7 linked regions of the Homo sapiens genome follow. The protein of the gene in region 1 purifies or fractionates together with the protein of each later gene. This does not show direct contact. Each region holds a gene or a part of one and is shown in the gene's direction. Other genes may lie near its edges. The genes, in order: NAA30, NKIRAS1, RAB2B, ATP1A3, SNRNP27, RLIM and MAP4K2.

Region 1 (3,500 bases):
GGGTTCCAGAAACTGAAAATTCAGTGTTGAGCATGGAAAGCAAGAAGAGAGAGACCTAAAGCAAAGCTGAGGCCAATATATTGATGGACTTTTTATGTCTCTTGATATTATTTTTAGATTGTGGACTTTCTCTTGAGGACAAGAGGGAATCAGTAAACGGTTTTAAGTAGAGAATTAACAAGAGCATCACCCTAACTCTAGAGAGAATGGGAGACCTCTTGAGTTAGGAGGCTCTTGTAATTATAGTGAGAGTTGATGGCAGCTTGGACTGTGGTATATCGAGCATAGAAAGAAGAGGACCACTTAGAGATTTAAGAGGGAGAATTGACAATAATCAGTGCTTGGATGCATATAGGTGGTTGGAGAGGAATGAGGTTCAAAGATGACTCCTGGGTTTCAGGTTTGAGGCATTGGTGTGGTGGGGGGTGATCCTGTTTACTGAGATATGGAATTGAGGAGGAAGAGCAGATTATGAGTTCAATTTTGGATATAAGTTGAGGTACTGTCTTTATTATTTGCATCAGTTGTTTGCATTCTTGTCAGACTTTTTGATAGCTTGAGAAAGAACAGGAAGAGACTTATGCTTCACTTGGGCCTTTGTTTAATTATACTTTGCCATTTCCCCCCCACCCACTCCAAACACTTGAGGGTTATGACACCCAATAGTAACTGTGGCTCACTGTGTTGATAGTTCTCAATGAAATAAGTTGAGAAACAATTGAAAAGGCAAATAGAGCTACGTGTGTAAAAGTTGGGAAGATGGGGTAGAGGGTGTTAGAGGGAGGTAAAAATAAAATCGCAGTTTTCAAAAATACCAGTTATTCATTGTCAGGGCCACTGGCTCAGTAATATTTCAAAAGACTTAAATGAAAGTTAATACTATGTGTTCCTCTGTTAAGCTTTGCTATATAGACCAGTGGTTCTCAAAATGTGGTCCCTTGACCGCAGCAACATCATCATCTAGCAATTTAAAAATATTAAAAATGCAGATTCTTGTGTCCTACTGCAAACGTACTCATAAACTCTGAGGGTGGGGCTCAGCAATCTATTTTAACAGACCCTTCAGGTGATTATGATACACTGTAACATTTTGAATACCTCTTGTCTGGATTCAGCAAACTTTCTTGGTAAAAGGCCCACTAGTAATTATTTTAGGCTTTGTGGACCATAGGTCTTTGTGGCAACTGCTCAGCTCTGCCCTTGTATTGAGAAAGCCACCACAGACATCATGTAAACAAATAAACATGGCTGTTTGACTAAAACTTTATTTACAAAACAGCAGGCACATTTGGCCCAAAGTCTATAGTTTGCAGACTCTGGTCGAGACTCCAGACAAATATGGTAGTTATTGCCAGAATAAATGACATATTAATGAAAATACAGAAGTTGGAAGTCAATCTGAATAGCTGCTTATAATAATATAGCTTATTATTTTAAGGAAATAAACCAGCACTTTTGATTGTTGATTTTATTTTCATCTGTAGTCATTTTACCTTTCCCCACAGGGAAATAATTAATCTTTGTTTTAGTATAAAACATACTCTCATTGCTAAACATTTCAAACTACACAAATCAGTAGAACAGAAGATAAATCTGCAGTGGTCCTCCAAGCCCTTGACCCAAATATAATATTACAATCTTGATGACTGTTTTTGAGTTCTTTCTGTATATTATTTATTGTTTTCACTATCAATTTTTAAAATAATGTATGATTTTTTAAAAAATTGTTTAGTTGGTAAATTATTTTTTAAATTGTGTAATTATAACTTAGTTTTTTTCTCATTTCTTTGAAGGTTGTTTTGGAAACCGAAATAACAAATAAGTCCGCTTTGAAACTTTATGAAAATCTTGGTTTTGTTCGAGATAAGAGGCTGTTCAGATACTATTTAAATGGAGTTGATGCACTGCGACTTAAACTGTGGCTGCGTTGAGAAACTGACATCAAGGAACAACTATCATCCGCACAGAATCGACCTTTGCATGCAATGCAATTTGTACAGAATTGCTTTGCAGGTGGATTTAGTAATTTCCATGCAGCTCTTACCTGTCAGTGTCTCATTGAGTGTCGCACAATATTTGTTGCACTTTGGCATGGCACATTTGTTCTGAATTAAAAGATTGTTTTAAACTTCAGGAGTTCTTTTGGTACCAACAAGATGTGCCAGTTGATAGCCAAGATTTATGTGTTCATTTGCAAAGTCTGCTGACAATGTTATTTACACAGTGATCATTTTATCACAGAACCAGTAAGTGGAACATAATTTTTGTTCCTTAAAAAAGCCAATGTGGATTGTAAAAGTCTTTAAGTATACTAACATTTCACACAAAACCTGCCCTAGTTTTCTGAAGTGGGTGAGGGAGACGCTTCAGTTTTAGGTTTTATTTTTTCAATATTAAATTTTCCATTCTTGAATATTGGTACCTCAGTGATTAGTGAATGAAAAAAATGTAGGGTGGGTATGTCTTACAATGAGTAAAGGTAACAATTAAATTTTGTCTGCCAGTGCCTGTGTAGATAAGTATATTTGTCTTCATCTCTAGTTTTTGAATGCATGCTATCTTTTCCTTTTCTTTAAGGCCTTTGCAAGCAAACTTTTGTTTTTATTTAAATTCTAAATTTGATAAATTATTTCAGATTTTTATAATTTGGATACTTTTTTCAGGTGAATGAAAGAATGGTTTACTTTAGAAGTCCCTTTTTCCTTACAGTAACAAGTTGAATCTACTTGGAAAATTGAGAAATGGCTCAAAAGAGATAAGAAAAGTTGATGGAGCCGGGAATTGCTGGGGTTTAGATGCACTTTTTCTTTTGAGAGTAAGGGAAGTTTTGGAAAAGAATAGAAAATTAGTGTAAGTTGATATGATTTTATTTAATCAAAATTACTGCTACGCTGCGAAGAACAGCTTTTACAAAGTAGCTGAATTTGTTTTTCCCACTTGATTTGGATTCACATTGCTTTCATTTCTTAAAATGCTTCACTTCAGGTTCTTGGTCTTGGAAATAAATTTCAAGGTGCATTGTATCCATTTTAAGCTGCTTTATTTTATTTTCACTTGTATGAGCAAATTCTTGGGGGAGCTTTGCTTTTCTTCTGCCAGAAAAACAAAAGGGGGAAATGAAAATCTTTTTTGGAATGAGTTCTGTGGGTTTTCTTAACAGCCACCATGTTTATTAGTTACATTGTGTTTTGGCCAATCAGTGCAATGTAACAAATTTTACAGTTAATTGCTTTCAATTGAGTCAGTAAACCTGTGATAGATAATTTATTTAACTGGAAAACCTAGGTACCCATAAGAAAAAAGATTCATTCTCTGTGAAAACTGTAGGAATCTGTTGTTGTTTTCATTTGAATATGCTCTACTTCTGCTCTAGTATTTGGTTTGGAATATATTTTGTGGCTCTAATTACTGTATTTTTAAAAACCCTACCTCCATTAACAGTTGGTAAAGGCCCCTTTTCAGGAAAGTTTGTTGCTTTTTTTTTTTTTTTAAAGGAAAGC
Region 2 (3,500 bases), on another chromosome or scaffold:
ACCCGGGAGGCAGAGTTTATCGTGAGCCAAGATCACGCCACTGCACTCCAGCCTGGGCAACAGAGCGAGACTGTATCAAAACAAAACAAAACAAAACAAAAACCTGCTTTAAAAAATAAAGGTTATTTTAAAATGTATAAGAGGTTACCATTATTTAAATTTGAAAAGAAGAATGTAAGTGAAAAATAGCCACTGCAAAGGATATAAGACACTCTCTTTGATGATAATGCCTATAAAATAAAATCTGTGTCTCCCAGACTGGAGTATAGTGATGCCATCTCACCTCACTGCAGCCTCCACCTCCTGGGTTCAAGTGATTCTCCATCTCAAAAAAAAAAAAAAAATCATAAGGAAGAAAAAATATATTTACTATTTATTAACTGGAAGTGGTTCATCGTAAAGGTCTTCATCCTCATTGTTTTTATGTGGAGTAGACTGAGGAGAAGGAGGAGGGATTGGTCTTGCTGTGTCAGGTGGCAGAGGAGAAAGAAAATCTACATGTAAGACATGTGAAGTTCAAATCTGTGTTGTTTAAGGGTCAGTGGTATTCTCAGCAGAGCAGTATAGTATACTGTGATTCTTTTTTTTGTTTTGTTTTCATGGAAGCCAACATGTATTTGTCATTTCTTTAGTTTTGTTTATACCTTTTGCTAGTTCTTTCCACATAGTCCAGATGTTTCTCAGTTCTGCATGAGGTCAGCTCCATCAGATAATCTATTTTTTTTCTTGGCTGTGTCCTTTCAGGAGCTCTGTGTCCTCTTATCTACTGTGCCACCATCATCATGGAACTTCCCCTTTGTTTCTCCCTTTGGTTTTTTTTTTTTTTTTTTTTGAGACGGAGTCTCGCTCTGTCACCCAGGGTGGAGTGCAGTGGCACGATCTCGGCTCACTGCAACCTCCACCTCCTAGGTTCAAGTGATTCTCCTGCCTCAGCCTCCCAAGTAGCTGGGATTACGGTCATGCGCCATCATGCCTGGCTAATTTTTGTGTTTTTAGTAGAGACAGGGTTTCACCATGTTGCTCCAGCTGGTCTTGAACTCCTGGCCTCAAGCAATCTGCCTGCCTCAGCCTCCCAAAATGTTGGGATTATAGGCATGAGCCACTGCACCCGGCCTCTCCCTGGTTTTGATTTCCTGTTTCCTAGATCTCTTGTCTTCTTTTCTTCTTTTGGCTTATACCTTTTTTTTTTTTTTTTGGAGCACATTTTCCAGTACTTTTCTGGGGTTGAAAAGGTTGTACAGTAGAACAGAACATCCAGTGATGATGGCCTTCAACATGCCCTCTACCTGGGACGTAGTCGTGACCCTGGGGCTTCCGAATTGAGATATTTACTAATTGTGCTTGTGATTTCCTTTACTTCATATCTGTGTTAGGTTCTGTTTCTTCCTGTTTCTATGATTACATATTAGTTTTTATGGAGGGTCTCCTCAAATAGTTTTCTGAGAAAATATACGTGATACATTTTCTGAGGCTTTGCATGTTTGAAACTGTCTTTATTTTACACTAACATTTGAATTGTAATTTTGATGGGTATGGAACTCTAGGTCAAAAATAATATACTTTCGGAATTTTGAAAGCATTGCATATATGGTTTAATAATTATAAGACAAACCTTCACATAATCTCCACATGGATCAAAAAGTACAACATTGAGGACAGGCCAGTGGCTCCCTGTGTTCCTCTGTCCAGTTGCAACTCATTCCTTCCCTTGACTTTTGGTTAATCATTCTTTTTATTTTTAATTGCCACATATGTGTGTCACTAAATGGTCTAGTTTATTTTTTGCCCTATGGATTTTCTATGAATTAAATTAATCCATGTCTGGCTTCTTTTACTCAACATTATATTTGTAAGACACATCAGGCCAGGCATGGTGGCTCACCACTGGAATCCCAGCACTTTGGGAGGCCGAGGTGGGAAGATCACTTGAGCCCCAGAGTTTGAGATCAGCCTGGGCAACATCAGGAGACCCCATCTCTATTTAGAAAAAAAAATAAAAGATTCATCCATTTTGCCGTAGCTGTGGTTGTTTACTTTTCATTGATGTAACATTCTATTGCATGAAACTACCTCTGTCTGTTAGGTCTTCATGAACATTTGGGTTATTTTCCAGTTTGGAGCTATTGGAAATAATGCTACTCTGGAACATTATTGTACATGTATCCTGGCTATTATGTGATAAATTCTGGTATACATATCTAGAAATTGCTGATTCATAGAAGGTGTGTCTCTTTAACTTTATCAGCTTCTATTGTCTTCTTGCTTCTAGTGCTACTTTTGAGAATCTGGGAACCATTATGATTCTTGATGCTTTGTCTGTGGAAACTTTTTTAGGCTCTCTTCTTTGTTCTTAGTTGCTGTGGTTTGAAGGATAGTGTCTCCTCCAAAATTCATGTTGAAACTTAATCTCCAATGTAACAGTATTAAGCACTGTGGCCTATAAGAGGTGATTAAATCATGAGGGCTCCACCCTTCACCTTCATGAGGACTAATCCCTCATGAAAGATTAGCATCCTTATAAAAGGGCTTGAGGTTGAAGGGAGTGCTCTCTTGCCCTTCTGTCTCTCCCACCATGTGAGGACACAGCATTTGACCCCTCCCAAGGATGCAGCAACAAGGCTCCATCTTGCAGTAGGGACTGTGCCATAACAACACACCAGACCTACTGGCACCTTGATCTTGGACTTCCCAGCCTCCAGAACTGTGAGAAAGAAATTTTCTATTTATAAATTACCCAGTCTGTGGTATTTTGTTATAGAAGCACAAATGGACTAAGACACCAGTGTTCTGAAATTTCAGTGATGCGTCATAGAATTGATCTTTTCTTTTCTTTCTTTTTCTTTTTTTACTCGGGTTGGAGTGCAGTGGCACGATCTCAGCTCACTGCAGCCTCCGCATCCTGAGTTCAGGCAATTCTCCCACTTCAGCCTCCCAAGTAGCTGCAATTACAGGTGCGCACCACCGTGCCCAGCTAATTTTTGTATTTTTAGTAGAGATGGGGTTTCACCATGTTGGCTAGGCTGGTCTTGAACTCCTGACCTCAGGTGATCCGCCCACCTTGGCCTCCCAAAGTGCTGGTATTACAGGTGTGAGCCCCCGAGCCTGGCCAGTCTGTTTTCATTTACTGTATTGGACACTTAGAGGGCCCCTTCTATATGGAAATGCATGTTCTTCAGTTTTGAATTATTTTGTTATTGCTTTCTTTCCTCTGTGTTCTCTGTCCTTGTTTTCTGGAACTCTCTTTTTGGATGCTGGACCTTCTGGACTAGTCCTTGAATTTTCTTATTGCCCCTTTCCTGTTTATCATCTCTCAATATTTTTGTACCACTTTTTGGTAGATATTCTTATCTTTATTTTCCAGCCCTTCTATTGAGTTTTTGTTAGTATCCTGTTCTTATTTCATGGATGTACTATCTTATTTTTTTGATAGATTAGGTAGTTTTTTGTTTGTTTGTTTTTGTTTTCTTTTCTTTGTATAGTTGGTTTCTCTGTAGCGGTCT
Region 3 (3,500 bases), about 36 Mb from region 1:
ACTCCAGCCAGGGCGACAGAGTGAGACTTTGTCTCAAAAAAAAAAAAATTATTTCATTCTTAAATAGCAACAGTTACTTACTAAAGACCTCTATGTGTCTGTTGGGCACTGCATAGCTTCTCAAACCTTGGAATCACGATTGCACACTGCTACTCTCATTTCCCATTTCATATTGATTTTTGTGTAGTGCTTGCTTTTTTATAACAGCAACTGCCAGAAACAGCTTCTCAGAGATATGAAGATATTGAACGAATTTTATCATGGTCTGATATTGACATTGCAACTGTCTTAAGCTTGTAATTCATGTAGTAAGTATCCTTGTGTTGAGTGTTACTGTGTTTTTCTCAAAAGTTTGAGGTATCCCATGGCACCCTTGTGAGTTTGTAGTAGTGCCCAGAGTGTACTATTTGAGAACTGTGGCCACAGGCTAATTGGTTTTTTGTTTGTTTGTTTGTTTTCATTTGTTTGTTATGAGATGGAGTTTCACTCTTGTCACCCAGGCTAGAGCACAATGGCATGATCTCGTCTTACTGCAACCTCCACCTCCTGGGTTCAAGCGATTCTCCTGCCTCAGTCTCCCGAGTAGCTGGGATTACAGGCATGTGCCACCAAGCCCAGTTAATTTTTTTGTATTTTTAGTATAGACGGGGTTTCTCCATGTTGATCAGGCTGGTCTTGAACTCCTGACCTCAGGCGATCCGCCTGCCTCGGCCTCCCAAAGTGCTGGGATTACAGGCGTGAGCCACCACACCCATCCTGCTAATTATTTTTAGTGTATCAGTCAATGTATTGAAAACGACTGTGCCAGATTCTGAGTTTGCAAGGTGGAAAAAAGTCGTCCCCCTGCTCTTGTGCAGCTTACAGTCTAGTGGGGGCATAGATGTTAAATATAAAATTATTTGTATCAAATTGTAAATTGTGATAAATGCAATGGAGGAAAAAGGGTGCTACGAAAGAATAACAGGGTACCTACTTTTGATTAGGAGTGATATTAAGCTGGGATCTGAAGGATGGGCAAGAGCCTGCTGGGCAAAGATTTTTTTAAAAGGGTATTACTTGGGGGGAACAAACTATACAAACACCTTGAACTTGGAAGAAGCTTGACACGTTTATTGAAAGAAACCTAGTGTGATTGGACTAAATCAAGAGGGAATAGTGCAAGATGAGGTTGGAAAAGTAGGTAGGGACCAGATTTTATAGCACCTTAGAGGCCTGAGTAAGGGTTTTGGATTTTATTCTAAATACATGGAAATTGAAGCTTGGGAGATGGGGGATTAAAAATAATAATAAATAAATACACCTGAAGCATTTTAAAGTTTTAAGTAGAGAAGTGGCTTGATCAGATTTTAAAAGATCACTCTGGAGGAGAACAAGGACTGAAGTAGTATCCCAGTTGCAATAGTCCACATGAGAAAGAATGGTAGCTTGGTCTAGGAAGTGACCCTGGAAAGAGAAAGAAAGGATAATTTTAAGGTACATATTGGAAGTACTTCACTTTGGAATGGATTAGATATTTGGAGTAGGGAGCAAAGGGTATCAATAATAACACTTTGGTTTTTGGCTTATGCCATTTACTGAGATACAGAAGCCTGCAGCAAACACAGGCTAGGGGAAAAGAAGTTCCATTTTGATGTGTTAAGTTTGAAGTCCGTTTTATGTATCAGTGTGGAAATGAAGAATTCACAAATGTACAAATCTGGTGCTTAGTCAAGCATCTGGGCTAGAGGTACAAATTTGGGAGGGTTGACATTTAGATCTTCCCTGGTCTTCACACAGCTGATGGTATAATAAATTAAAATATTGTAGATTTGTTGTTCTTTAATGGTCTTACACTTTTTTTCCAAGGAGTTGGAAAACTGGAAACCTCCCAAATGAAAATTTTCAAATTGAAAAATACGAATCACAAACAGCCCAACCTTGCCTTATTCTTCAGTTTGTTTTTTTGGTTTTGTTTTTTTTTTGCGACAAGGTCTCGTGCTGTTGCCCAGGCTGGAGTACAGTAACGTGCTCAGCTCACGGCAACCTGTTTCCAGGGCTCAAGAGATCCTCTCACCTCAGCCTCTCACGTAGCTGGGACTACAGGCATGTGTCACCACGCTCTGCTGATTTTTAAATTTTTGTAGAGACAGGGTCTCACTGTATTGTGCAGGCTGTTCTTAAACTCCTGGGCTCAAGTAATCCTCCTGCCTCAGCCTCCCACAGTGCTGGGATTATAGGCATGAGCCACCACGCCCAGCTCTGCAGCCTTTTATCCTGTTTTTCATAAGGTCTTTTGTTGCCATTTTTATTCCCTTTTTCAGTCCTTAGCTCTTATCTTTTTTTTCACCTAATTTTATCCATATCACTGTCTCTGAATTCCCTGGTGGCAAGCTGCTTTTATATGCACTAGTAACGAAACCAGTGAGACTTAAGACAACTGTGTTTTCCTTATTCCTGGCTCATTCTCTTCTTGTGGCTTGATTCCAGTAAAAAAGGAAGATGCTCATCACTGCTGGATGGGACATCTTATGACTTTTCTGCTTTCTAGTAACTAGAGTTTTCCTTTTTTTCTTCCCCGCCCAAGAGACAGTCTTGCTCTGTCGCTGAGGCTGGAGTGCAATGGCGCGATCTCAGTTTACTGCAACTTCCGCCTCCCATGTTCAAGCAATTCTCTTGCCTCAGCCTCCCGAGTAGCTGGGATTACAGGCACCTGCCACCATACTCAGCTAATTTTTGTATTTTTAGTAGAGACGGGATTTCACCATCTTGGCCAGGCTGGTCTTGAACTCCTGAACTCGTGATCCACCTGCCTCGGCATCCCAAAGAGCTGGGATTACAGGCATGAGCCACTGTGCCCAGCCAAGTTTTTTTTTTTCCTCATCTATACTTTGCTCTCCTTGATCTCATTGGAAAAACAAGCAATAGAGCATAAGCTTTGTGTAACTATGGGGGCTTGCCTAACCCTTGATAAGCCATTTTCTCTGTAATAGAGTGAGGTATTATCTTCAACTATGCAGCAGCTGTCCCAAAACTAAAGAATATTTTCCAAGATGCTACAAAAATCAGTAACTCTGTATAAGAGTATCATGTAGGATCTACATTCTTTATGAAATAACTGGCAGTTGAAACCACGACGGAATTCTTTTAGAAATAGACTTTCCTCTTTCACTTGGATCTTTTTTTTAAATTTTCTCCTTAATTAATCTCTTGCAGTGACCTAGAGTCCCGCAGGGATGTGAAGAGAGAAGAAGGAGAGGCCTTTGCTAGGGAGCATGGACTTATATTCATGGAAACTTCAGCCAAAACAGCCTGCAATGTTGAAGAGGTACTATTTGGAAAACAGTGGGGAAAGCTCTTTAGAGATTACACCATTATTTGTCCTTGTATTCAGAATTCTCTTCTCCTATAAGAAATTGGTAAAGAAAGGATGTCTTGGCCGAGCGCGGTGGCTCATGCCTGTAATCCTAGCGTTTTGGGAGGCCAAGGCAGGCAGATTGCGTGAGCTCAGGAGTTTGTGACCA
Region 4 (3,500 bases), on another chromosome or scaffold:
CACAGGGCTGGAGAGACAGCCTTAAACAAGTTAACAGATATGTAATTACAAATTGTGATATATGCCCCGAAGAAAGCAGGCCGCTGTGATAGATAATAGTGAGGGTCCTGCCCAGATGGGGTGGACAGGGAAGGCCTCTCTGAAGTGAGGGAAGAAATACCTAACTTCCGTCAGGGGCCAGGCACGGGGGCTCACGCCTGTAATCCCAGCACTTTGGGAGACCAAGGCGGGAGGATCGCTTGAGCCCAGGAGTTCAAGACCTGCCTGTACAACAAATTAAGACCTCAAAGATCAAAAAATTTTAAAAATTAGCAGGGCGTGGTGTTGCACACCTGTAGTCTCAGAGACTTGGGGGGCTGAGGCAGGAGGATCACTTGAGCCTGGGTGGTCGAGGCTGCCATGAACCATGATGGTGCCACTGCACTCCAGCCTGGGATAGAGCGAGATCCGAGACCCTGTCTCAAACAAACAAACAAAATAACTTCCAACGGGGGCATTCCAGATATACCCAAAAGTAAAGCAAAGGCACAGTGGGCCCCTGCGCCTCCATCCCACCTGCAGCGGCAGTCAGCGCACGGCACACCTTGTTTCTTCCCCACCACCTGGAACACACACTGGATTATGCTGATGCACATTTGTCACCATTTCATCCATAAATAGTTTAGGATGAGAAACCCCTAGTTTGTGGAGAAGAGCACAATGCAGGGAACGAGAATATCAGGTGGGAGCGGCCCAGGCCCTTATTGCTATGCAAGAGACATCAAAGCAATCAAAGAAGCCACACCACAGGCAGCCTGCTTCACCTTCCCTTCCCTCCCTCCCTCCCTTCCTCCCTCCCTCCGTCCCTGCCTGCCTGCCTTCCTTCCTTCTTTCCTTCCTTCCTTCCTTCCTTCCTTCCTTCCTTCCTTCCTTCCTTCCTTCCTTCCCCTTCCTTCCTTCCTTCCCCCTCCCCTCCCCTCCCCTTTTTTTGATGGAGTCTTGCTCTGTTGCCAGGCTGGAGTGCAGTGGCGTGATGTTGGCTCACTGCAACCTCCACCTCCCAGCTTCAAGCGATTCTTCTGCCTCAGCTTCCCACATAGCTGGAACTACAGGCACACACCACCACTCCCAGCTAATTTTTTGTGTTTTAGTAGAGATGGGGTTTCACCATGTTGGCCAGGATAGTCTCGATCTCCTGACCTCGTGATCCACCCGCCTCAGCCTCCCAAAGTGCTGGGATTACAGGTGTTTGCCACCGTGCCCGCCTGTTCTTTCTTAATGATTGACCTCATTGTTCATGGGCTAATCTTTTTACTTATTTATTTATTTAGAGACAAGGTCTCACTCTGTTGCCCAGGCTGGAGCGCAGTGCTGCAATCATCAGTCACTGCAACCTCGACCTCCTCAAGTGATCCTCCCACCTCAGCCTCCCAAGTAGCTGCGACCACAGGCTCGAGCCACCGTGCCTGACTAATGTTTATTTTATTTTATTTTATTTTTTTGAGATGGAGTCTTGCTCTGTTGCCCAGGCTGGAGTGCAATGGCACAATTGCGGCTCACTGCAACGTCTGCCTCTGAGGTTCAAATGATTCTCCTGCCTCAGCCTCCCAAGTAGCTGGGGTTACAGGTGCCCACCACCACGCCCAGCTAATTTTTGTATTTTTAGTAGAGATGGGGTTTCATCATGTTGGCCAGGCTGGTCTTGAACTCTTGATCTCAGGCAATCCTCCTGCTTCGGTCTCCCAAAGTGTTGGGATTACAGGTGTGAGCCCCAGCGCCTGGCCTGGATTAATCTTTATTTTGTTTACTTTAGACAACCTGTACTGGTTGAATATTTATTGAGATATGGCATGCATACAGTGAGTTGGGCATATTATATCTCATTAAAATATTCAACCAGACAGGGTGTATAAATTTTTACACATGTACACAGCCATGCAACCACCAGACCCCAGTCAAGATAGAAAACCATTCCAGCCCCCCATTTAGGTTTTGTCTGCTCTCTTCCAGTCTATATCCCTCCTCCTAGACATAACCATTATCCTGACTTTTAGCCCAGAGACGGGTGCTGAGCCTGCTCCAGTTGGAGTTGGATGCTAAGAATGCTTTTGTGTCTGGCTCGTGTCACTCAGCACGGGATCCAAGGTCCAGCTGTGGAGTTGTGTCCGTAGCTCGCCCCTTCTTGCTGTGTAGTATTTGACTGCATGGATGTACCGTGGTTTATTCATCCCTCACCTGTTGATGGACATGGGGTTGACTCTGGCTTTTGGCTCTGATGAGTGGTGCTATGGTGAACATTCTCGTACTTGCTTTTCGCTGGGCATAAACAGTCCTCCTCTCTTTTGGGTATAAAACCTAGGAGTCGGATTACTCGGTCGGTGGGGTGGGGGATGTTTGATAGCAACTCCGAAACCATCTTCCAAAGTGGTTATTTCAAGAATGTTTCCACAAAGGCGATGTGGTTGGATGTTTATGTGGAAAGGTAGGTGGGTGAGGGGCCAGGTGTGGAGACTTATGCCTGTAATCCCAGCACTTCGGGAGGCTGAGATGGAATCACAGCCCAGAAATTAGACAAGCCTAGGAAAAGTGGTGAGACTCTGTCTCTACTAAAAATACAAAAATTAGCTGGACGTGGTGGCGCGTGACTGTAGTCTCAGCTACATGGGAGGCTGAGGCAGGAGGATCACTTGAGCCTGGGAGTCGAGGTTGCAGTGAGCCGTGATCATGCCACTGCACTGCAGCCTGGGCAACAGAGTGAGACCCTGTCCCAAAAAGAAAATAATGGTGGGTGGGCTGGGGGGTAGAAAAGGACGCTGGACAGGCCGGGCGCGGTGGCTCACGCCTGTAATCCCAGCACTTCAGGAGGCCGAGGAGGGCAGATCACGAGGTCAGGAGATTGAGACCATGCAGGCTAACACAGTGAAACCCCGTCTCTAATAAAAATACAAAAAAATTAGCCGGGCGTGGTGGCAGGTGCCTGTAGTGCCAGCTACTCGGGAGGCTGAGGCAGGAGAATGGCGTGAACCCGGGAGGCGGAGCCTGCAGTGAGCCGAGATCGCACCACTGCACTCCAGCCTGGGCAACACAGCGAGACTCTGTCTCAAAAAAAAAAAAAAAAAAAAAAAGGACGTTGGATGAGGGCAGAGGAGGGGCAGAGGGAGTGGGGCTCCCTGGCATGGGCGCCTGCTCTGAGCCTGCCTGTGCCACAGGCCGCCTGATCTTCGACAACCTAAAGAAGTCCATTGCCTACACCCTGACCAGCAATATCCCGGAGATCACGCCCTTCCTGCTGTTCATCATGGCCAACATCCCGCTGCCCCTGGGCACCATCACCATCCTCTGCATCGATCTGGGCACTGACATGGTGAGCCCTGGCAGCCACCCTTGGGGCCCAGGAGGGTGGAGTCCTCCCCTCTCCGGCTCACCCGGCCTCCTCCGCCTAGGTCCCTGCCATCTCACTGGCGTACGAGGCTGCCGAAAGCGACATCATGAAGAGACAGCCCAGGAACCCGCGGACGGAC
Region 5 (3,500 bases), on another chromosome or scaffold:
GAACCACCGTGCCCAGCCTGAGATTTTGTTTTAATTGCACCCTAGCAAGTTGCTGGTTATCTATGGTGCTCCTGATATAGAACGATAGTTAAAAACATGAGAATATTCTATTTTGGAAGTGTCTTCAGAACTATATAGTGTCATGCCTGATATTAAAGGTAGTCCTTAATATGAAACCCAGGTTTTTTTTTAAAAGGTAATCCTGTCTAAAGGCTTCAAGGAGAGGACTTTTTTTTTGTACCATAAGTTACATTCTGTCCAAATGTAAGAGGAATTTTTTCATTAGACTCATCTTCAGCTAATTGTTTTGTGTGTTCTCTGCTAGTGAGGTGGAATGACTATTAATCTGTTACCACCTCTCTTTTTATTTATGTATATATTTGAAATGATAGAGAGGTCACAAAATTATTCTTTTTTGCAGAGGAAGACTTAGAGGGCAAAACAGAGGAAGAAATAGAAATGATGAAGTTAATGGGATTTGCCTCCTTTGACTCCACAAAAGTAAGTAAAACGTGCAACATTCTCATTTGAATTAATATGTTATGACTGTCCTATCTTTCCATGTTCTTTTCCATTTATACAAATTTATTTGGTTATAAGACAATAACTATCTGTTTGAAGGGCTTTGAGAATACAAAGGAGGAAACAGTGAACTGCCATTGGAATTCAGGGAGTGGTTGCCAGGGACGATGTTTGAATTAGATTTTAAAGGACAAGTAGAAGTGATCAGACAAAGAAGAGGAAGAAGATTATTTCAGGTAGAGGGAAGAGCTCATGAAAATGCCATGTAGGTGTAAAGGAGCATAGTGTATTGTGGGAATTTCAGATTCGACCAGGGATAAAGGGGTGCTGATGGGCTAGTGACTTAGGCTAGAAATAGAGGTAGGAGGCAAATCACAGAGGGCTTTTGATGCCCTTAGTCATGCTAAGGAATTCAGAGTTTATTCTTTTGGTGTTGAGGAGAGGAAGTAGTGATTTTTAAATAAGGGAGTGGCATGGTTATATGTGTGTTTTGGAATAATGACTCTGGGGGCAGCATGGAGGACAGATGGGAGGTGGGTTAGATTGAAGGCAGGGAGAACTGCTGATTTGTGCAAGTGAAAGATGATAAAGGCCTGAACTGAGTTGAGAATGATTCAGGAGCTGGGGGAAGTGGGAGTGAGTAGTTAGTAATGCCTCTCAGGTGTCAGGCTGGGACCCTGAGTGATACAGTTAACCCAGAACAGAGTTTCTGGAAGGGGAACTGCTGGGAAATGGAAGAACAAAATCCAGCTGCCAGATAGAGATGACATTGGGCAGCTGCATACTTGTCTCATAGCTTAGAAGTGGGGTGGATAGGGGAGGGAATGCTGTCTAGCCTTCATAATAGCAGAGAGATGAGGGAAGAGGAAAAAGAGGGAGGGATTATATAGAGGAGGGAGAGCATAGAGCGAGAGATGGGGGAAGAGAGAGATGGGTATAGAGAGAGGAAATGAAGAGAGGAGAGGGGATGGAGAGAGGGAGGGTGTGTGGAAAGAAAAACATATTTTTTAAAATCTCTTTTCTAGAATTTTAAGTCTTTCCATTTAGTTTTGCAAATGGAAATAGAGATGTTTGAGAAAAAGTTGTCAAAAATAATCCACTTTCCCAAGTCTTGTATTCCATTGAGTTGCTAATGGAATGGGGTAATCTCAGTGGCTGTAAGTTTCTTTCTAACTAATGTGACTGTGTAGGGCTCACATGTTTTAAAATGACAGTGTGTAACTTAGGAGTACTGAGGCATGACTGTTTTGAGGTGAGAAATTAAGAACAAGCTCTTGTTCTTGCAATGGTTATGTGAGCTCTGTTTTGGAATTTAATGAAGTTTATTTATCAGCTTTTTTCCCTTGAATGCCCTAAATTCTTATTTATTTTCCAAAGACTATTTTATAAATGAAAGTTTATTAAGATATATGTTGGGTGAAATGTAAGTTTATTAAGATATATGTTGGGTGAATTAAAATATGTCAAAAGTAAAGCAACTATAGTTTTATTGTCTTTAGAAGAATGGGGAGGGAACTTTTTCCCCAAAGAAAATGGAATTATTTTCTTTGTTTTTTGGTTTTCCTGTTGCTGGATGTTAGGTTTAAAGTTCCTGAAAGTCAGATCTAAGGGTGGTGCCACCCATCACTTAAATGTAGTCAGTGAAGAAGATGTTTGCTTATAAAGGAAAACTTAGGTGAAAAGTCATAGATCTTAAAAAAATTATGGAGTACCATCACACTAATTGATGTCAGTTTTTTAAAATGACATCTACAAGGATGTCAATTTAGTTTATATGCAGTTGGCTTCATGGCTATCAGTTATAACGTCAGCTCATTTGTGTTTTTAAGTAATGTGTGTCTTGTGATGTTTCATCATTGATCTATTGTGGGACCTCTTCATATGCCAGTATAGTCACCCATTTTCCTTTCTATTTGATTGTATTTTCATTTTTTTATTTGTATTATTTTTTATTTTAATTTTATTTTTTCGAGACAGAGTCTCGCTCTGTTGTCCAGGCTGGAGTGCAGCGGCGCAATCTCGGCTCACTGCTACCTCCGCCTCCTGGGTTCAACCGATTCTCCTGCCTTGGCCTCCCAAGTTGCTGGGATTACAGGCGCCTGCCACCACGCCTGGCTAATTTTCGTATTTTTAGTAGAGATGGGGTTTCGCCATATTGGCCAGGCTGGTCTCGAACTCTTGGCCTGAAGGGATCCACCTGCCTTGGCCTCCCAAAGTGCTAGGATTACAGGCGTGAGACATTGCGCCCGGCCTCATTTTTTAGTTTTTTAGAGACAGGGTCTTGTTTTGCCACCCATACTGGAGTACAGTGGTATGATCATGGCTCACTGCAGCCTGACCTCCTGGGCTGAAGCAATTTCCCTGCCTTAGCCTCTGGAGTAGCTGAGAGTAGGCACATGCCGCCACGCCAGGATAATGTTTTTATTTTTTGCAGAGATAGGGTCTTGCTGTGCTGCCTAGATTGGTCTTGAACTCATGGCCTCAAGAAATCCTCCTGCCTCAGTCCATTTTTTTTTTTTTATTTTTGAAGAGACAGAGTCTTCCTATGTTGTCCAGGCTGTACTCAAACTCCTTGGCTCAAGAAATCCTCTTGCCCCAGCCTCCCAAGTAGCTGGGACTGTAGCCTCACAGCAATGTGCTTGGCTTTTCCCTTTCATCTTATTAGATTGGTGGAAAAGTAATTACAGTTTTTGCCATTGAAAATAATGGCTAAAACTGCAATTACTTCAATAACATTTTTCTAGATGGTTTCAAAGTTTGGTTTTGTTTATTAATGGATAATTTTCTATGCCAGCATGTAAATAAATGAGGATAGGGCTAATAATATGCAATTCTGCAAATAGTTTCCAGAAATCAGTAAACCTTTAGGAATCGAACTTTGTAAAAAGGTTATCATCATTTACTTTTTTGTGCCCAAGACCAGTCTTTCTAAGTCATGCTTACTTCCTATTATAGGGAGTTCAAAATCATATACCTCA
Region 6 (3,500 bases), on another chromosome or scaffold:
ACCAAGACTGGATTTCAGTATCTCTTTTTTCCTTTCACAGAGCTGAGTTTCACCCTGCTACCCATGTGTAGAATAAAAAAAGATACCTGGTTGTTAGCAAATATTTTTCTGTTACAAATACCATAACATTTTAATTAAACATTCTATATATGAAGAATCCCCAACACTTTTGGTGCCTACATACGTAATGATATGATGGTACTTTTTGTTTTCTGGCCTTAAATTCAGCAGTTCTTTGTGATTTAACTTTTAAAAAACTGAATAAAGTATTTTTCATTTTGGTGATGGTATTTAACATTTTCTTCATTGACACAGATCACATGTCACTAGTTCTTAAAGGACTCCTTTATGAAGTTCTTTTTTGTTTTTTTTGTGTGTGTGTGTTTTTGGTGTGTGGTTTTTTGTTTGTTTGTTTTGAGACGGAGTCTCGCTCTGTCACCCAGGCTGGAGTGCAATGGCACGATCTCTGCTCACTGCAACCTCCACCTCCCAGGTTCAAGCAATTCTCCCACCTCAGCCTCCTGAGTAGCTGGGATTACAGGCACCTGCCATCATGCCTGGCAAATTTTTGTATTTTTGTAGAGACAGGGTTTCACCATGTTGGCCAGACTGCTCTTGAACTCCTGACCTCAGGTGATCCGCCCGCGTCGGCCTCCCGAAGTGTTGGGATTACAGGCATGAGCCACTGTACTCAGCCTCCTTTATGAGATTCTTGATGAAGCTCTGTTGCAAACAAAATGGATTGCCCTTCTCTTGTCAGTGTGACACATTTTTGTGTTCATACCCATAATTTTTTAAAAATTGGCATGTCCTGCTTTAGAACTTTATTATAGAATTTGGAGCTTGAATGAACACATATGCACAAGGTGAAATATTCAACATGATTTAGTAGTTAGTTGATGTTACGTTACCTTAATTCCTCCCTCCCACCCACCCCACTTTTTTTAAAAAACGAGGTAATTTCTTCCATATGACTTTTTAAATTTTGATATGGAGTCTCTGTCACCCAGACTAGACTGCTGTGACGTGATCTGAGTTCACTGCAACCTCTGCCCCCAAACTCAAGTGATCCTCCCACCTCAGCCACATCAGCTCCCAAGTAGCTAGGACCACAGATGCGCGTTACCATGCCCAGCTAAGTTTTTGTGTCTTTGGTAGAAACGGTTTCACCATGTTGCCCAGGCTGGTTTTGAACTCCCGGGCTCAAGCGATCCGCCGACCTCGACCTCCCAAAGTGCTAGGATTACAGATGTCGGCCACCACACTCGGCCAGCACCATGCCCAGCCAAGATGACTCACTTTTTAAAATTGGTTTTTACACAGGCATTTCACTTGGTGTTTCAGAATTTAGTTTTGTAAGGTCTGTTTTATTAACAGTATTTTTGGATGCCTTAAGTCTCCTTAATTGGGTACTATAATGTAGTGTGTCCATCAAATATAACATGCCTGTGTTTATACTTAGCACCAGGTCTCCTGACCTGTTAGTACTGAACAATATGTTTTAAATAACTTTTTGCCTTAACATTATAACAATTAAATTTTTTAAAAGTTTGGTGTGCATGGATTAGAAGAATTAAATGAGATACTACATTTAGCAGTAATCAGAAACAGTCATTTGCATAATTTATATTAATATATAATAATGACTAGAAGAAGTTGAGATTATTAACAATACTTTAAAATTCTCAAAGTGAATAAAATCTGTTTTAAATAAATCTCAGGGTTGGTGTTCTTGCTGGCCTTTCCTCCCCAGAATTAAACTTACTGGATACAGTCCCATTCATTGACCAGATGAGTAGCTCTTTGAAACGATTGGGCAAAATTTCTCATTTGGTTTCTTGTTTCCAGGAATGGATTTGGATATATTGGCACACAGTACTCTAAAAGAAATAAGGTTAATAAAATATGCTGTTTATCTAAGGAGCAACTGTATTTTTAAAAATTACTAAAAGTTGACTTATTTAAAAATAAGTCCATCTAGGTTTGTGCTGCTTACAAAAGGTGTTTTGTCATTTTGGAATTTTTCATACAGGGAGTGAACATGGTATAAAAAGCTCATAGATTGAATAGTTTAGTCATACCTATTGGGATTGAAGGAAGGAATGTGTTTTAAAGTATAGAGTCTTGGGATATGTTGGGAGGCAGTTGTCTTAGTGAAAAGTTGACTGGATTTGGAATGCAGAGACCTGGATTTAATTACTGGCCCTTTCCCACTTACTAGTCACATGGTTTTTGGTAAATCACTTTCTTTCTCTGTGCTTCTGTTTGTCACCTGTAGAGGTGGTGATTCCTAATTCATGGGATTATTGTGAAGATTAAATGAAATACAGGTGTAAGGGCTATGTAAATACAGGGTGATGAGTATTGCTTATAGCCAGAGAGAGACCTAAGTGACTTCAAAACAGTTATATTTCATTGTTTAAATTACTGTATGTTTCACGGGTAATCTTTTCATAGAAAAACAGCTGATGCTAATCATATGCTGAAGTCAGAATTTCTGACTTATCTGAGATAACTAAAGAAATGGATTTATGACCTTCTCTTTTACGATGATGTTGAAAGATCCCAGCGGTGTATAAGGATTCTCTTTTTCCTCTTGCTACTTAAGCTAGAAATGTACCACAATGTTACTCACTGCAAAGTAGAATCTGGAGACCTGTTTTGTTAATGTTATTCTTCACTAATATTTTCACACCCAAAATGGAGATAGAGCTGTATTTGATCATTTGGAGTATGGTTTTCTGGTATTTTTGGCATGCCTAAACTTTAAAATGTTTGTTTGCACTTAGTAAACAATAGTGGCAGATTATATCTACCTGGGGCAGAACTTGTGGTTTTTAGATTTATTCCATTTCTTTCTTTTATGCCGCTTAGATAGTGAAGGTCTGCTTAAAATAAGACCAGGCTCATTGGGTGTGTGAGAGTAAAATTAGTTTACAAGGCATTTGAGAGCATTGCCTTGATTTCCATTTTCTTTGCAAATGTAATTATGTCTAGTCCAGGGGACCTCTGCAGGTATTGTAGCCATAGCTTACTCTTTGAATTCCCTTATAAGGGAGGGAGTGCCTTGCCAGTGCTGAAATCTCTTGACCCCCAATTCCAGCCCAGGGGAAATGCTAAGTTAAGGCAGAAAGGATGGAGGCTTTGAAATAAGTGTGTTGCAGGAGTATCATGGGGAAAATATTTTCCTTGATTGTCTCTGGCATATATATGGAAGGGTAGCAGGAAAGGAGACAGCAGCATATTATTATTATTGAAGAGGTAGTGATTTGGATTTGTTCACATGTTGCTTTATGAGTGTGTCTCATTAAAATTTTGAATTAAATAAAATTTAGAATTCCCTCTTTCATGGAACGGAATCCAAGCTCATCAAGCAGGAGCTGTTTAGGATTCAAAAATCTCTGAAATCAGTGTCAGGAAAATTTTGAATGGAGGTAAAATGTTTTGTCTCTAGTTTCTATGTAGGAAATGGTAGAAATTCTAAAAGGTCAAGAATGAAT
Region 7 (3,500 bases), on another chromosome or scaffold:
CCCGTTCACGACTCAGCAGCTCCCTCGGGCCCTCCTCACACAGCTGCTGGACAAAGCCAGTGACCCTCATCTGGGGACCCCCTCCCCTGAGGACTGTGAGCTGGAGGTAGGTGAGGGGGGCTGGAAAGTGAGTCTTGGGCTGGTCTGCTTAGAAAGAGCCCGAGGGTGATGTTGGTGGAGGTCCTTTAACTGGCACCATTCCAGCTCAGGGAGCTGGCCTCAGCTGAGCCCTCCCATTAGGAGTCTCTGTCATGCTGACTTTTGTTTCCTGTACCACCCCCTTGATAGGTCCCTGCCCTTGAGTCCAAGCTGACCATGACCACGACTGTGCCATTTTCTTGCTTTCTGTGTGATCTTTGGCACTGCTCTGTGTGGGTTCTCTCATCTGTGAAGTGGGGTTCCATTTTATTTTACAGTAGTCCCAGAGGGCTGTCATGAAAGCAAAACGCACTGGTGCGTGTGAAGCTCCTAGAGCAGCCCCGGCATGAGGCGCGTGCCAGGTGTGTCCACACTGTTTCTGTTTTTCCTTAGACCTATGACATGTTTCCAGACACCATTCACTCCCGGGGGCAGCACGGCCCAGCCGAGAGGACCCCCTCGGAGATCCAGTGTGAGTCTGCAGCAGGGGCTGTGTGTGTGCAGATTTTGGGGGGCCTGTGTGCACATGGATTTGGTGTGAGTAGAGGTCCATCCTGAGACTCCAGCTCCTTCACTCTTGTACTCTGGGCCCCCCAGTTCACCAGGTGAAATTTGGCGCCCCACGCAGGAAGGAAACTGACCCACTGAATGAGCCGGTGAGTGGGCAGGCCTTGAGGGGAAGGTGGTGCCCAGAGGTGGGGCAGGGAGGTCGGATGGAGGCCGAGCAGCTCAAATCAAGGGAGATTTGAAGCTGGGTGGCCTCGGGCCTTGGGCCTTAGACTGTCCAAGCAAGCCTGTCCTACCCAGGGACCTGGAGGGTTAGGGGCTCCTTCCTGGGCCAAGTTCTTTTAGGTGGGTGTCTGGAAGGTAGCACAGAGACCATGCCTTTCCCAAAAGGAGGCCGTCATGTGCCTGAGCCCTCACCCTACCCTGCTCAGCCTCGTTTTCCCACCTGTGTGTCCCCAGTGGTCTGACTTTCTGTCTCTGCCCTCATCGGCTCTGTCACTGGTCTCTCCTCACCCCCCAGCCTGTCTCTTCCTCCCTCGCTGTCTGTTGCCCTTTCTTTCACAGTCTTCAGCTCTGCCTCCCACTGTCTGTCTCTCTCATCTTCTGTGTGTTTCCATCTCACCTTTCCCGTCTGTCTGTCTGTCTGTCTTTCCTTTCCTGAATCTCTTGAGCGCCCTCTCACGTTGCATCTGTCTCTGCTTCTTCCCCGGTCTCTACCTTGGTTTCCCCCAGTGGGAGGAAGAGTGGACACTACTGGGAAAGGAAGAGTTGAGTGGGTAAGTGAGGTATGGGGAAGCTGCAGGGGGTGGCAGGGGCGGCAGAAAGGCTGACCTCTGACCGGGCGTGGTGGCTCATGCCTGTAATCCCAGCACTTTAGGAGGCTGAGGTGGGTGGATCACCTGAGGTCAGGAGTTCAAGACCAGCTTTGCCAACATGGTGAAACTCCACCTCTACTTAAAATACAAAAATTAGGCTGGGCGGGTGGCTCATGCCTGTAATCCCAGCACTTTGGGAGGCTAAGGTGGGTGGATCACCTGAGGTCAGGAGTTCGAAACCAGCTTTGCCAACATGGTGAAACCCCATCTCTACTTAAAATACAAAAATTAGGCTGGCTGTGGTGGCTTACGCCTGTAATCCCAGCACTTTGGGAGGCCGAGGTGGGCGGATCCCAAGGTCAGGAGTTTGAGACCAGCCTGGCCAACATGGTGAAAGCCCGTCTCTAGTAAAAATAGAAAAAATTAGCCGGTGTGGTGGCAGGCGCCTGTAATCCCAGCTACTCAGGAGGCTAAGACAGGAGAATCGCTTGAACCCGGGAGGCGGAGGTTGCGGTGAGCTGAGACTGCACCACTGCACTCCAGCCTGGGCAACAGAGCGAGACTCCATCTCAGATAAATAAATAAACAAACAAAAGTTAGCTGGGCATGGTGGCCCACGCCTGTAATCCCAGCTACTAGGGTGGCTGAGGTAGGAGAATCTGGGAGGCAGAGGTTGCAGTGAGCCGATATCTTGCCATTGCACGCCAGCCTGGGTGACAAGAATGAAACTCTGTCTTAAAAAAAAAAAAAAAAGCCCGGGTGTGGCTCATGCCTGTAATCTGAGCACTTTGGGAGGCCGAGGTGGGCGGATCACAAGGGCAGGAGATCGAAACCATCCTGGCTAACACGGTGAAACCCCCTCTGTACTAAAAATACAAAAAATTAGCCGGGTGCGGTGGCGGGCGCCTGTAGTCCCAGCTACTTGGGAGGCTGAGGCAGGAGAATGGCGTGAACTTGGGGGGCGGAGCTTGCAGTGAGCCGCGATTGCGCCACTGCACTCCGGCCTGGGTGACAGAGCGAGACTCCGTCTCAAAAAAAAAAAAAAAAAAAAGGAAAGGTTGACCTCTGACCCCTTTTCCCCACTGCCCAGGAGCCTGCTGCAGTCGGTCCAGGAGGCCCTGGAGGAAAGGTGAGGGATGTGGGCCTGGGGGAGGGGCAAGGGGCAGGTGGCCTTGGTGCCAGTCACACCTCATGCCTCACGCCTCATCTCCCTCCCACAGGAGTCTGACTATTCGGTCAGCCTCAGAATTCCAGGTGCCACACAGAGGGAGGCTGGAGCTGGGATCCAGGCCACTGCAGAGGGTACGATTGGAGTGGGATGTGGTTACAGGGCAACCTGGTAACGGCCGGGCTGGGCCCTGCCCCTCCTACCAGGAGCTGGACTCCCCAGACGATACCATGGGAACCATCAAGCGGGCCCCGTTCCTAGGGCCACTCCCCACTGACCCTCCAGCAGAGGAGCCTCTGTCCAGTCCCCCAGGTGAGTCTCAGGCTTGGGAGGCCAGGAGGCAGCCCCAGGGTGGGGGCTACAGCAGGAAATTACAGCACGCCTGTGCCTGCAGGAACCCTGCCCCCACCTCCTTCAGGCCCCAACAGCTCCCCACTGCTGCCCACGGCCTGGGCCACCATGAAGCAGCGGGAGGATCCTGAGGTAAGAGGGTGCTACAGTGGGGTGGGGAGACGGGCGGCTACAGCTGTCATATCAGCCCTGACTCCTTTCCTCCCTCCCAGAGGTCATCCTGCCACGGGCTCCCCCCAACTCCCAAGGTGCATGTAAGTGTTTGCCCCAAGCCCTGCAGTCCCACAGCCCTGCCACCCACCACCCCTGCACTCCCTCGCCAGCCTCTTGCCTCCTCTGCAGATGGGCGCCTGCTTCTCCAAGGTCTTCAATGGCTGCCCCCTGCGGATCCACGCTGCTGTCACCTGGATTCACCCTGTTACTCGGGGTAGGTGGGGGCAGGGAGGAAGCGGGAGCCCAAGGAATCCCTCAGCTTGGGCCAGGGGCCATGTCTGACCTCTGACCCCATGCCCAAACTGGCA

Evidence for each region.
Region 2: the proteins of NAA30 (region 1) and NKIRAS1 purify together in Homo sapiens (affinity purification with mass spectrometry; one large-scale study listed by BioGRID and IntAct). This does not show direct contact.
Region 3: the proteins of NAA30 (region 1) and RAB2B purify together in Homo sapiens (co-immunoprecipitation; one large-scale study listed by IntAct). This does not show direct contact.
Region 4: the proteins of NAA30 (region 1) and ATP1A3 purify together in Homo sapiens (affinity purification with mass spectrometry; one large-scale study listed by BioGRID and IntAct). This does not show direct contact.
Region 5: the proteins of NAA30 (region 1) and SNRNP27 purify together in Homo sapiens (co-immunoprecipitation; one large-scale study listed by IntAct). This does not show direct contact.
Region 6: the proteins of NAA30 (region 1) and RLIM purify together in Homo sapiens (co-immunoprecipitation; 2 studies listed by BioGRID and IntAct, with this or other methods). This does not show direct contact.
Region 7: the proteins of NAA30 (region 1) and MAP4K2 purify together in Homo sapiens (co-immunoprecipitation; 2 studies listed by BioGRID and IntAct, with this or other methods). This does not show direct contact.

Annotation. Positions count from the first base shown.
Region 1 is NC_000014.9:57,407,586-57,411,085, forward strand, and holds part of NAA30 (N-alpha-acetyltransferase 30), read left to right. Parts: intron 1-1,793; coding exon 1,794-1,931; 3' UTR 1,932-3,500. UniProt on the Homo sapiens protein: Catalytic subunit of the N-terminal acetyltransferase C (NatC) complex. Catalyzes acetylation of the N-terminal methionine residues of peptides beginning with Met-Leu-Ala and Met-Leu-Gly.
Region 2 is NC_000003.12:23,903,491-23,906,990, reverse strand, and holds part of NKIRAS1 (NF-kappa-B inhibitor-interacting Ras-like protein 1), read left to right. Parts: intron 1-3,500. UniProt on the Homo sapiens protein: Atypical Ras-like protein that acts as a potent regulator of NF-kappa-B activity by preventing the degradation of NF-kappa-B inhibitor beta (NFKBIB) by most signals, explaining why NFKBIB is more resistant to degradation.
Region 3 is NC_000014.9:21,463,460-21,466,959, reverse strand, and holds part of RAB2B (ras-related protein Rab-2B), read left to right. Parts: intron 1-1,089; exon of another isoform or gene 1,090-1,443; intron 1,444-3,192; coding exon 3,193-3,304; intron 3,305-3,500. UniProt on the Homo sapiens protein: The small GTPases Rab are key regulators of intracellular membrane trafficking, from the formation of transport vesicles to their fusion with membranes. Rabs cycle between active GTP-bound and inactive GDP-bound states.
Region 4 is NC_000019.10:41,970,231-41,973,730, reverse strand, and holds part of ATP1A3 (sodium/potassium-transporting ATPase subunit alpha-3), read left to right. Parts: intron 1-3,188; coding exon 3,189-3,343; intron 3,344-3,422; coding exon 3,423-3,500. UniProt on the Homo sapiens protein: This is the catalytic component of the active enzyme, which catalyzes the hydrolysis of ATP coupled with the exchange of sodium and potassium ions across the plasma membrane.
Region 5 is NC_000002.12:69,896,956-69,900,455, forward strand, and holds part of SNRNP27 (U4/U6.U5 small nuclear ribonucleoprotein 27 kDa protein), read left to right. Parts: intron 1-421; coding exon 422-501; intron 502-3,500. UniProt on the Homo sapiens protein: May play a role in mRNA splicing.
Region 6 is NC_000023.11:74,604,625-74,608,124, reverse strand, and holds part of RLIM (E3 ubiquitin-protein ligase RLIM), read left to right. Parts: intron 1-3,500. UniProt on the Homo sapiens protein: E3 ubiquitin-protein ligase.
Region 7 is NC_000011.10:64,796,715-64,800,214, reverse strand, and holds part of MAP4K2 (mitogen-activated protein kinase kinase kinase kinase 2), read left to right. Parts: coding exon 1-106; intron 107-531; coding exon 532-610; intron 611-735; coding exon 736-794; intron 795-1,377; coding exon 1,378-1,421; intron 1,422-2,550; coding exon 2,551-2,589; intron 2,590-2,680; coding exon 2,681-2,714; intron 2,715-2,834; coding exon 2,835-2,940; intron 2,941-3,022; coding exon 3,023-3,111; intron 3,112-3,191; coding exon 3,192-3,233; intron 3,234-3,321; coding exon 3,322-3,406; intron 3,407-3,500. UniProt on the Homo sapiens protein: Serine/threonine-protein kinase which acts as an essential component of the MAP kinase signal transduction pathway.